Linked DNA regions of Homo sapiens: region 1 is linked to region 2. The links come from fine-mapping of genetic effects on gene expression. Tissue or cell type: whole blood. Region 2 holds a variant in brackets; the other region holds the start of a gene. All regions are shown on one strand. Distances are from middle to middle.

What was found.
Region 1: it holds the start of SRPK2, and the variant in region 2 is fine-mapped to the expression of SRPK2 in whole blood (INTERVAL, PIP above 0.99).

Annotation. Positions count from the first base shown.
Region 1 is chr7:105,386,276-105,391,651 of GRCh38, reverse strand. SRPK2 (SRSF protein kinase 2) reads left to right here and starts at 2,731. Exons shown (of 16, transcript NM_182692.3): 1 at 2,731-2,861; 2 at 2,950-3,004. The coding sequence starts at 2,846. RefSeq lists silencers at 2,361-2,530, 2,631-2,680, 2,691-2,760, 2,791-2,920, 3,261-3,380 and 1 more.
Region 2 is chr7:105,446,088-105,451,463 of GRCh38, reverse strand. No RefSeq gene overlaps it. Among named protein-coding and RNA genes, the nearest start is that of SRPK2, 60 kb to the right of the region's middle. RefSeq lists an enhancer at 3,176-3,295. The variant C/A (reference allele first, on the strand shown) is at 2,969.

The sequences.
Region 1 (5,376 bases), 60 kb after region 2:
CCAGGCTGGAGTGCAGTGGTGCGATCATAGTTCACTGCAGCCGCCAACTCCTGGACTCAGATGATCCTCCAGCCTCAGCCTCCAAAATGCTGAGATTACACTTGTGAGACATCACGTTTGGCCTTATTTTCCATTACAAAAATTTTTAGCCGGGCGCAGTGGCTCATGCCTGTAATCCCAGCACTTTGGGAAGCCAAGGAAGGTGGATCACCTGAGGTTGGGAGTTCGATACCATCCTGACCAACATGGAGAAACCCCAGATCTACTAAAAATACAAAATTAGCCAGGCGTGGTAGCACATGCCTGTAATCCCAGCTACTCGGAGGGTTGAGGCAGGAGAATCACTTGAACCTGGGAGGCAGAGGTTGCGAAGAGCTGAGATCGTGCCATTGCACTCCAGCCTGGGCAACAAGAGCGAAATTCCATCTCAATAAATAAATAAATAAATAAATAAATAAATAAATAAATTTTATAGTCATCCTAGTAGGTGTGAAGTAGTAGCTCATTATAGTTTTGCTTTGTATTTTCCTAACAACTAATGATGTTAATTCTCTTGTCACATGCTAGTTTGGTCATTTGCATGTCTTTGGAGAAATGTCCATTCAAATCCTTTGCTCATTTTTCATACAGACTTCTTAAATACAGAGGGAAAAGGTACCTGTATCTTGGAGAAATAATTAACTGTAACATCACCAGTAATGGAACAAACTGACATCATATTTTGATGCACTAAGATGAATACAACATCATCTATAGTATAGCCAACAAAATTGTTTAACTTGAATCTAATCATAGGGAAACAGACAAATCCAAAACAGGGAACATTCTGCAAAATGGTGGAACTGGATTCTTCAAAAAAGTCAATGTTATAAACAACAAAACAAAACAAAACAAAAAAAGGCTGGGTGCCGAGGCTCAGGCCTGTAATCCTAGCACTTTGGGAGGTTGAGGTGGGTGGATGACCCGAGGTCAGGAGTTCGAGACCAGCCTGGCCAATAGGGTGAAACCCTGTCTCTACTAAAAAAAAAAAAAAAAAAAAAAAAACAAAAACAAAAATTAACTAGATGTGGTGGTGTATGCCTGTAATCCCAGCTACTCGGGAGACTGAGGCAGGAGAATGGCTTGGACCCGGGAGGCTGAGGTTGCAGTGAGCTGAGATTGCGCCACTGCACTCCAGCCTGGGTGATAGAGTGAGACTCCATTTCAAAATAAATAAATAAATAGAAAGAAAACCAAAACACAAAACCAAGAATGATTCTAGACTAAAGGTGTTTAAAAAGACATGACAATTAAATGCAACGGATGATCCTTAATGGTAGACTAATTGGGAAAAAAAGAAAATCAGCGACAAGGGATATTACTGGGATATTTTGCAAAATTGAATATATATGGCCTGTATGTTACAGATGATTACATTGTATTAGTATGAAAGTTTCTTGGAGTGATCATGGAATTCTGATTATGTGGGAGATTATCTTTATTCTTAGTAGATATGTACTGAAATATTTAGGGATAAAGGGTAACAGTGTCTACAAAAACTCAAGTGATTCAGCAAAATAAACCATACACACAGACACATAGATAGCAAATGTGGCAGAATGTTAAAAATTGGTGAATATGGGTTAATTTGGCTGTTAATTGTATTTTCCTTGTAACTTTTCTATAGGGTTTGATATTTTTTTGAATATAAAAAGTTAAGGACTCTTCAAAATCCAAGCAGAGTTTCCCGTTCTGATTTATCATCCTTAGTGTAAGCCACCTTGTCAAAGATACAGTTGTGTGACCAATGAGGGAGTTAATAGTCAGAATGCGTATCTTTCAAAAACTATTGTAATTATTTACATAAATAAGAGAACATTGCAGTTATCTTTTTGTGTCACTATCAACTTGATTCACATCTTTTGTAGGCAGCCTGATAAGGTGGTTTGTCGACGGCCAGGCCTGAATTTCGATCCTGGCTGGTTAAACTTTTTAACCTCGTTGGGACTCAGTTTCCTCATTGTAGGATGCAGAAAATAACTACTTGGTGTGATTGTTGTTTTGAATTGTTATACACCTGGTGTTTACGGAAGCGAGTTTCAATTCATGTGCAAAACCTTTGTCCTACCTTGAATGCTATCTGTATCTTTTCCTTCATTAAACTCATGCAATCCTGGAGGGCACTTAGAGGTGGGAGAGAAAATGACTTCTCCAAGGTCACACCGCTAATCGCGGACCCAGGTTTCCCAGCTTTTGGTCGTGTGCCCTTTCCACGCCTGCCGGAGAGGAGGAAGCGGCGCTCATGGGGTTGCAAGGATGTAGAGGAGCAAAGGGAGAGAAGAGGCCGCGGGAAGAGAGGTGGTGCGAGACCCGCGGAGGCGCCGGCCAAGGACGGGCGCATGGAGCAGCGGGCGGCGCGACCGGCCGGGGTGCGGAGGGGAGAGGCCGCGGCGGGGAGGGAGGGTCCCGCGGGTCCGGTGCCCGGGAGAGGCGGGCGGCCTGGGCCAGCCGCAGGATCGCAGGAGGCGGAGGCCCGGGCCGCGGGCTGGGGTGGGGGAGGCCGAGGGCCAGCGCGGCCATGGGCGGCGGCCACTTCTGCACAGGTGGGTGGGGCGGGGGCGCGGGGCGCTGGGCGCGCGGCGCTGGGGTCCCGACCCCCGGGGCCGGCGGGTGGGGGCGGGGCGGGGGCGGGGCCGGACGGGGGCGGGTCTTGCTGGGTCCCTGCTGGAGCGGCGGCGGCGGCGGCGGCGCAGGCGCGGTTCTCGTCTCCTCCCGGCCGGCGGAGCGAGTGGAGGCTGCAGCCCAGCTCGTCTCGGCGCCCGCGTCGCCGTCGCGAAGCCCCCCGCCCCGCTTCCGCCGCGTCGGAATGAGCTCCCGGAAAGGTGAGTGGCCCGCGGCGCGCCCTCTCCCCGCCACGCGGCCAGCCCGGGCGGGCGGCCCGACCGTTAATGTGTGTCTTCTCTTCCCCAGTGCTGGCCATTCAGGCCCGAAAGCGGAGGCCGAAAAGAGAGAAACATCCGAAAAAGTGAGTCCACGCTGCGCCTGTCCCCGTTCCCCACCCCCGCCCCGTCGGGGGCGCCCGCGGCCGCGCAGGGGAAAGTTGTCCGGGTCCCCGGGCCGGCGGGCGGGCTGGTCCCCCGGGACGCTGGCGCTCGGCTCCTGCCCCCGGCGGGCGGCCCGGGGGGAGGGGCGGCGGCGGGGGAGGGGCGCGCGGGCCGCGGCCGGTTCCCTAGCATCACGGAGCCTCGACCCCGCGACCTCCCGCCCCGGGTCGCCACCGGCCGGCGGGCGGGAGGCCGGCGGAAAGGCGCCGGGCAGGGCGTGCGCACCCGTCCCTTGCCCGCGAGCTGGCCCGGGGGTCGCGGCCCTTTCCGGAAGGGGCCCCGGCGTCTGCCGCTGGGCTCCGGCCCGCCCGCTGCGGGAGTGCAGCGGCTGCGTTGCTCCCACCTGAGCCGCGGGCCGAGGAGGCGGAGGGGCCGAGTGTGCGGGAGGGCGTGTGTCTCGCCTCCCCTTCCTCCCCGGCCCCCGCCTGTCGGCCTTTCTGCTGAGAACCTAAGCTGGTTGTCAAGTGGTTTGCCTCGGGCGTGTTCCTGGCGCGAGTTCAGCCCCGAGACCTGTGCGTTTCGGCTCTCGGGTTTGGATTCGAAACTTTCCGCTCGGGTTGAGCGTGACTTGGGTGCGCTGCGGGCGCCGGGGTCGCGGGCTGCGCAGGGCGGTGGGCGTGTGCGCGGGAGCCGGTCGGAGTGGAAAACGCGCCCGTGGCGGCCACCTCCAGCCTGGCCGCTCACCCGAGCAGGGGGGCCGCTGCCCAAGAACCCTTTCCTGGAGAGCTGCTCCGAGACCGCACAGCGCCGCCGCGTCTTCTCCTTTTCCACTCCTCTCTCCTAATTTTTTTGATTTACCAGCGTTCGACATCGTTATCTCTTCCTCTAGATTAATTGCTTCGCTCTTTTGAGCAAGAATACTCTGTGTGGCATCTTTGGTACTGTGGGGAACGAGAATCCAGCATTATCTTTAATAAAATCCAGAAACATTTTTGGTTGTTTCCTTTGAGGGGTACGTCGCAGCACGCTCACTTTTTTCCCCTTCTCGTTGGCCTTGGTCCTTCAGTTTCACAAAATGTGGATAGTGACTTAAAAATACCTTAAAAAAAAAAAAAAAAGAAAAAACCATTAGAGTAAGGGGAAAGCACTTCCTAAAGAGTTGAAGAACTAATTGGTCGGTAAAAATTGGATATTGAATTCATAAGATGTTAAAATGGACTGGATTTTTGGTAGTTTTGGTTGCTTTTAAAAAAATTAGTGCTAGCTTTCAAGTGAATTACAACCTTAAATTTGAGATTTCCTTTGGTGAACCATGGAAGTTTACCCAGTGGTAAGGAGAACTGTAATGTTTAGGATTCTGAATAAGTACTGTGTTTTAATCACAGCTCTTAATTCAAAGCATTGATTTAATTCCACGTAGTCTGTTATACTCAGAAACATAAAAACAAGTGGAAAAAGTATGACCCCAGTGTCGGAGATGGCTATGTGTGCATGTATATACAAATAGACACGTATATGTGCATGTTACCTTTACGTACATGTGGAAAAACAGTTCTAATTAAGTCAATATGTGTCTTGTATTTGCATATATTAGAGTATGATTTTCCTAATGGTCGAGGGCCTTTTTGGTGGGCCGCAGTTTGGATTTATGTGGTATGTTGATGAAGACTTAGTGAATAGCCACAGTACTCAGCTTTTCCTCTCACAGATTAATCTGCCAGTTTCTCCCACTGTGTATTGTGTATATGTGATAGAATTTGAGGGGGAAAATAACACACCAGCTAATGATGAAACGAACTGGCTCTAGTCTGTAAGGTAACGGGACCAGCCCAATTATATAACTGATTGAGGCATTGCCATTTTTCACTTAACTCTTTGAATCAAGTCATAATTTTATTTAATAATTTTTTTGAGGCAGAGTTTCGCTCTTGTCGCTCAGGCTGGAGTGCAATGGCCCAATCTTGGCTCACTGCAACCTCCGCCTCCCAGGTTCAAGGGATTCTCCTGCCTCAGCCTCCTGAGTAGCTGGGATTACAGGCACCCGCCACCAAGCCTAGCTATTTTTTTTGTATTTTTTAGTAGAGACGGGGTTTCACCATGTTGGCCGGGCTGGTCTACAACTCCTGACTTCAGGTGATTCACCGGCCTCGGCCTCCCACACAGCTGGGATTACAGGTGTGAGCCACCGTGCCCGACCTGAATCAAGATATTATTTAAAAGAACTGTTTGATGTTATTTATTTATTCATGTCTTCAATAGGTATTTACATGTCTGTCTTCGGAGATGGTGTTAGAGGTTGTTTTTTTTTTTTTTTTGAGACCGAGTCTTGCTCTGTTGCCCAGGCTGGAGGGCA
Region 2 (5,376 bases):
GCCCAGGCTGGAGTGCAGTGGTGTGATCTCGGCTCACTGCAACCTCCGCCTCCCGGGTTCAAGCAATTCTTGTGCCTCAGCCTCCCAAGTAGCTAGGATTACAGGCATGAGCCACTGTGCCCAGCCTTCTATTTAGATTTTAAATTCCATGTTCATGGAATATAAATTGAGGTTTGGGAGATGAGAATAAGGATAGAGTCAGAAGTAAAAAAAAATTTGTGAAAACAGCACATGAAGCTAAGAACTCAGGTTGTACAGGATGGCAAGGTGATTAGGCAGGGCTGAGGTTTTGTTTTGGCTTTTATTAATGATAGCTTTATTGAGGTATAATTTACATACCATACAATTCACTCATTTAAGTGTACAAAGGATTTTGGTATATTTGGAGTTGCGCAACCATTATCACAATCATTTTTACTTTTTTTTTTGAGACAGAGTCTCGCTCTGTTGCCCGGGCTGGAGTGGCGTGATCTCAGCTCACCACAACCTCTGCCTCCCAGGTTCAAGTGGCTCTCCTGCCTTAGCCTCCCAAGTAGCTGGGACTACAGGTGCGTGCCACCATGGCCAGCTAATTTTTGTATTTTTAGTAGAGACAGGGGTTTCACCATATTGGCCAGGCTGGTCTTGAACTCCTGACCTCGTGATCTGCCTGCCTCAATGTCCCAAAGCCCTGGGATTACAGGCGTGAGCCACTGTGCCCGGCCCATTTTTTTATAATCTCAAAAAGAAACTTCAAATGCATTAGCGTTGACTTCCTATTATCACCTCAGCCCCAGCCCCTGGCAACTGCTACTTTCAATCTCTGTTGATTGGTCTCTTCTAGTCATTTGATATAAATGAAATTATACAATATGCGGGACTGACTTTCACTTAGCATAATGTTTTCAAGGTTTATCCAGTTTGTGACGTAAAAGTACTTTATTCCTTATTTAGGCAAACAATACTCCATCTATGAATATACCACATTTTATTCATGTTCATCAATTGATAGACGTTTGGGTTGTTTCCACCTTCTGGCTTTTATGAATAATGCTGTTATAAACATTTTGGTATGAGTTTTTGTACAGTCATATGTCTCCATTTCTCTTGAGTATAAAGCTAGGAGTGGAATTTCTGTGTCATATAACTGTGTTTAATCTTTGAAGAACTCTCAGACTGTTTTCCTAAGTAGCTGCACCATGTTACATTCCCACTAGGAGTGTATGACAGTTCTATTTTCTCCACATCCTCGTCAACACTTGTTGTTATCTGTCTTTGTGATTGTAGCCATCCTTTTGGGTATAAAGAGGTTTCTCTGCTGGACGTGGTGGCTCACGCCTGTAATCCCAGCACTTTAGGAGGTCAAGTTGGGCAGATCACTTGAGGTCAGGAGTTTAAGACCAGCCTGGCCAACATGGTGAAACCCCATGTCTACTAAAAATACAAAAATTAGCCAGACATGGTGGCAGGCACCTGTAATCCCATCTACTTGGGAGGCTGAGACAGGAGAACTGCTGAACCTAGGAGGCAGAGGTTGCAGTGAGCCAAGATTGCGTCACTGCACTCCAGCCTGGGCGAGGGAGCAAGACTCCATCTCAAAAGCAAAAATAAAAATAAATTTAAACAAATGAAAATAAAGTGGTTTCTCACTACGGTTTTGATTTGCATTTCCCTGATGACTATGTGGAATATTTTTGTATGCTTATTGGCCATTTGTCTATTCTTTGGAGAAATGTCTATTGAGATCTTTTGCCCATTTGGGGGGTGTTATTTTTCTTTATGTTGTTGAGATCTAGAGTTCTTTGTATGTTCTAGGCACAAATCCTTTACCAGGTATACGATTGGCAAATATTTTCTCCCATTCCATGGGTTGTCTACTTTCTTTTTTTTTTTTTTTTCTTTTGAGACAAGATCTCATTGTTGCTCAGGCTGTCTGTAGTAACACGATCACGGATCACTGAGGCCTCAACCTCCCAGGCTTAAAAGTAGCTGGGACTACAGGCACACACCACTACAGGCTAATTTTTGTATTTTTGGTAGAGATGGGGTTTCACCATGTTGTCCAGGCTGGTCTTGAACTCCTGAGCTCAAGCCATCTGCCTGCCTCGGCCTCCTAGAGTGCTGGGATTACAGGCTTGAGCCACTGAGCCTGGCCTATCTTTACTTTCTTGAGGGTTGGGTTTTTGTTTTGTTTTGTTTTTTGAGACAAAGTCTTGCTCTGTCACCAGGCTGGAGTACAGTGGCGTGATTTTGGCTCACTGCAACCTCCCCCTCCCGGGTTCAAGCGATTCTCCTGCCTCAGCCTCCCGAGTAGCTGAGACCACAGGCACATGCCACCACGCCCACCTAATTTTTGTATTTTTAGTAGAGACGGGATTTCACCATGTTGGCCAGGATGGTCTCGATCTCTTGACCTCGTGATCTGCCTGCCTCGGCCTCCCAAAGTGCTGGGATTACAAGCGTGAGCCACTGCGCCCAGCTGAGGGTTGGGTTTTAAAGGCTGTAGGAGTTATTCTTTATTGAAATTTTGTTTCTAAACTAAGTTCCTATGGTGTCCATAATAACTAGATTGCTGCAGTGTCCACAGTAACCATCTGAAAATGGATTTTCATGACTGGGAGGGCTCAGGGTTAAGCGCAAGAATTCACAACCATAACTTTACAGGATGAAAATAGTCAGGCACTGCCAGGAGCGGTGGCTCACACTTGTAATCCCAGCACTTTGGGAGGCCTAGGCAGACGGATCACTTGAGATCAGGAGTTGAAGACCAGTCTGGCCAACATGGTGAAACCCTGTCTCTACTAAAAATACAAAAATTAGCCGGGCGTGGTGGTGGGCGCCTGTAATCCCAGCTACTTGCTGGGCTGAGGCACGAGAATTTCTTGAATCCGGGAGGCAGAGGTTGCAGTAAGCCAAGATCTCGCCACTGCACTCCAGCCTAGGCGACAGAGTGAGACTCCGTCTCAAAACAAACAAACAACAACAACAA[C/A]AACAAAAAAAACCACTTAGGCGCACTTGGGAACGCTTTTGTTTCAGCTCAGTTCAACTCCACCTGCACCCTCTGAGAGCTGCAAATGGGGAACATAACTCTCCTTAGCCCAGCACCCACGTCTGTTCTCTACTAGCCACATTCATCCTGTTTTCTACATTTCTCTCTTCCTGTTTACAAAATTAATTTTCAACATAGAAGATCTTACTACCTGTTTTGGCCTAGACAAATGTTTCACTACCAAAAAACTTGCTCGTCAAGCTGACACAGAGTCATTCCACTTAACGAGTTAGCCACCTTCCATTAGCTGGAAAGATGATAGAGTCTTAGTTGATCCTTTTTTCTAATAATAATATCTGTCTAATAAAGTGGAGCTAAAGTCTGTTTCTTTCCTGTGCCATCCTGGTTTCTTAGGACCCCTGCACATTAATTAGGAGGAAGTCATGATGTGGATAACTCCAAAAGGTGAAAATCCAAAAGTAAATAAAGCACTGGAGGCTGCTGTGATAAAGAGGAAAGGACGTCAAACCAGGAGTCAAAATGCACAGGCTGAAGTCCTGGCCCTGCCACTGACTGTTGCTCAGAGACCTTCAGAGATCCACATCCCTCCTCCGGACCTCAGCTTTCTCCAGAGAATCCCTCAATGCTAACTGTTGCAGAGTACTCCATGGAGTGCACCCATCACACGTGGACTACACGGAGCTCCAGGGATGGACATCAGATTTGCCTCTAACTCCTCATCACCCTAAACAACATTGTCATCAACTCCATTGCACATGTCTCCTTGTGGACCCATCACAGCACCATCAGTTCCCACTGTTGCAGGCTAAGGAAGAAGCCTGTACACAGTCCCATCTGGGTGGGATTGGCTGTCCACAGAGGTAGGAAGACGAAGTGATGCCAAGTAGGATCATCTTCCCTCCAGAACTTGGGCCCAGTCTTCCAGGAGTTGTCATCTGTGCTTGGAGCAATAACTCATTTTCTCTCCTCTCTTACCATGTGAATTTTTCACTACTTTAAAAAATTGCTGGCTGGGCATGGTGGCTCACGCCTGTAATCCCAGCACTTTGGGAGGCCGAGGCGGGTGGATCACGAGGTCAGGAGATCAAGACCATCCTGGCTAACATGGTGAAACCTCGTCTCTACTAAAAATACAAAAAATTAGCCAGGCGTGGTGGCAGGTGCCTGTGGTCCCAGCTACTTGGGAGGCTGAGGCAGGAGAATGGCGGGAACCTGGGAGGCAGAGCTTGCAGTGAGCTGACATAGCGCCACTGCACTCCAGACTGGGCAACAGAGCGAGACTCAGTCTCAAAAAAAAAAAAAAAAAAAATTGCTGGCCAGGCACGGTGGCTCACGCCTGTAATCCCACCACTTTGGGAGGCCAAAGCAGGTGGATCACCTGAGGTCAGGAATTTGAGACCAGCCTGGCCAACATGGTGAAACCCCGTCTCTACCAAAAATACAAAAATTAGCCAGGCATGGTGGCGGGTGCCTGTAGTCCCAGCTACTTAAGAGGCTGAGGCAGGAGAATTGCTTGAACCTGGGAGGCGGAGGTTGCAATGAGCCGAGATTGTGCCACTACACTCCAGCCTGGGCAACAGAGCGAGACTCCATCTCAGAAAAAAAAAAAAAAAATTGCAATATACATTCATAACCAAGTCCACTTTCAAATAACACCATACTGCTTCATGAGTAGTACAGGTCCTTCATGGATAGTACAGATACTTTATAACAGTATTTGCTGGCCAGGCACGGTGGCCCATGCTTATAATCCCAGCACTTTGGGACGTCAAGGTGAGCAGATCATGTGAGGTCAGGAGTTCAAGACCAGCCTGGCTGACATAGTGAAACCTCGTCTCTACTAAAATACAAAAATTAGCCAGGCACGGTGCCAGGCACCTGTAATCCCTGCTACTCGGGAGGCATCCCAAGTTGGGATTGCACCGTTGTACTCCAGCCTGGATGACAGAGTGAGACTCTGTCTAAAAAACAAAAAACAAAAACAAACAAACAAAAAAACAGTATTTGCAACTCCTTTCTACTGCTTTCTAAAGCAAAGAAACGGCTTTCATTGATTTCACATTTCCATGCTATAATCATGCAATTCCTTCTTGCTATTATTATTTTGAATGGTCATATATTAGATCAGTTAATAAGAAAAGTAAAAGGTTATTTTTATTCCTTCTCTGATTCTCTTCCTTTCTTGATATGCATGAGAGTTTCTGACCTATATCATTTTCCTTTTCACTGAGGAACTTCTTTTAACAGTTTTTGCAAGGCAGGTCTGCTGGCAATAAATTCCCTCAGTTTTTGTTTTTTGAAAAAGTCTCTTTCTCCTTCACTTTTGCAAGATAATTTCACTGGATGTAGATAATTCTAAGTTGGTGGGTTTTTTCTGTCAACACTTT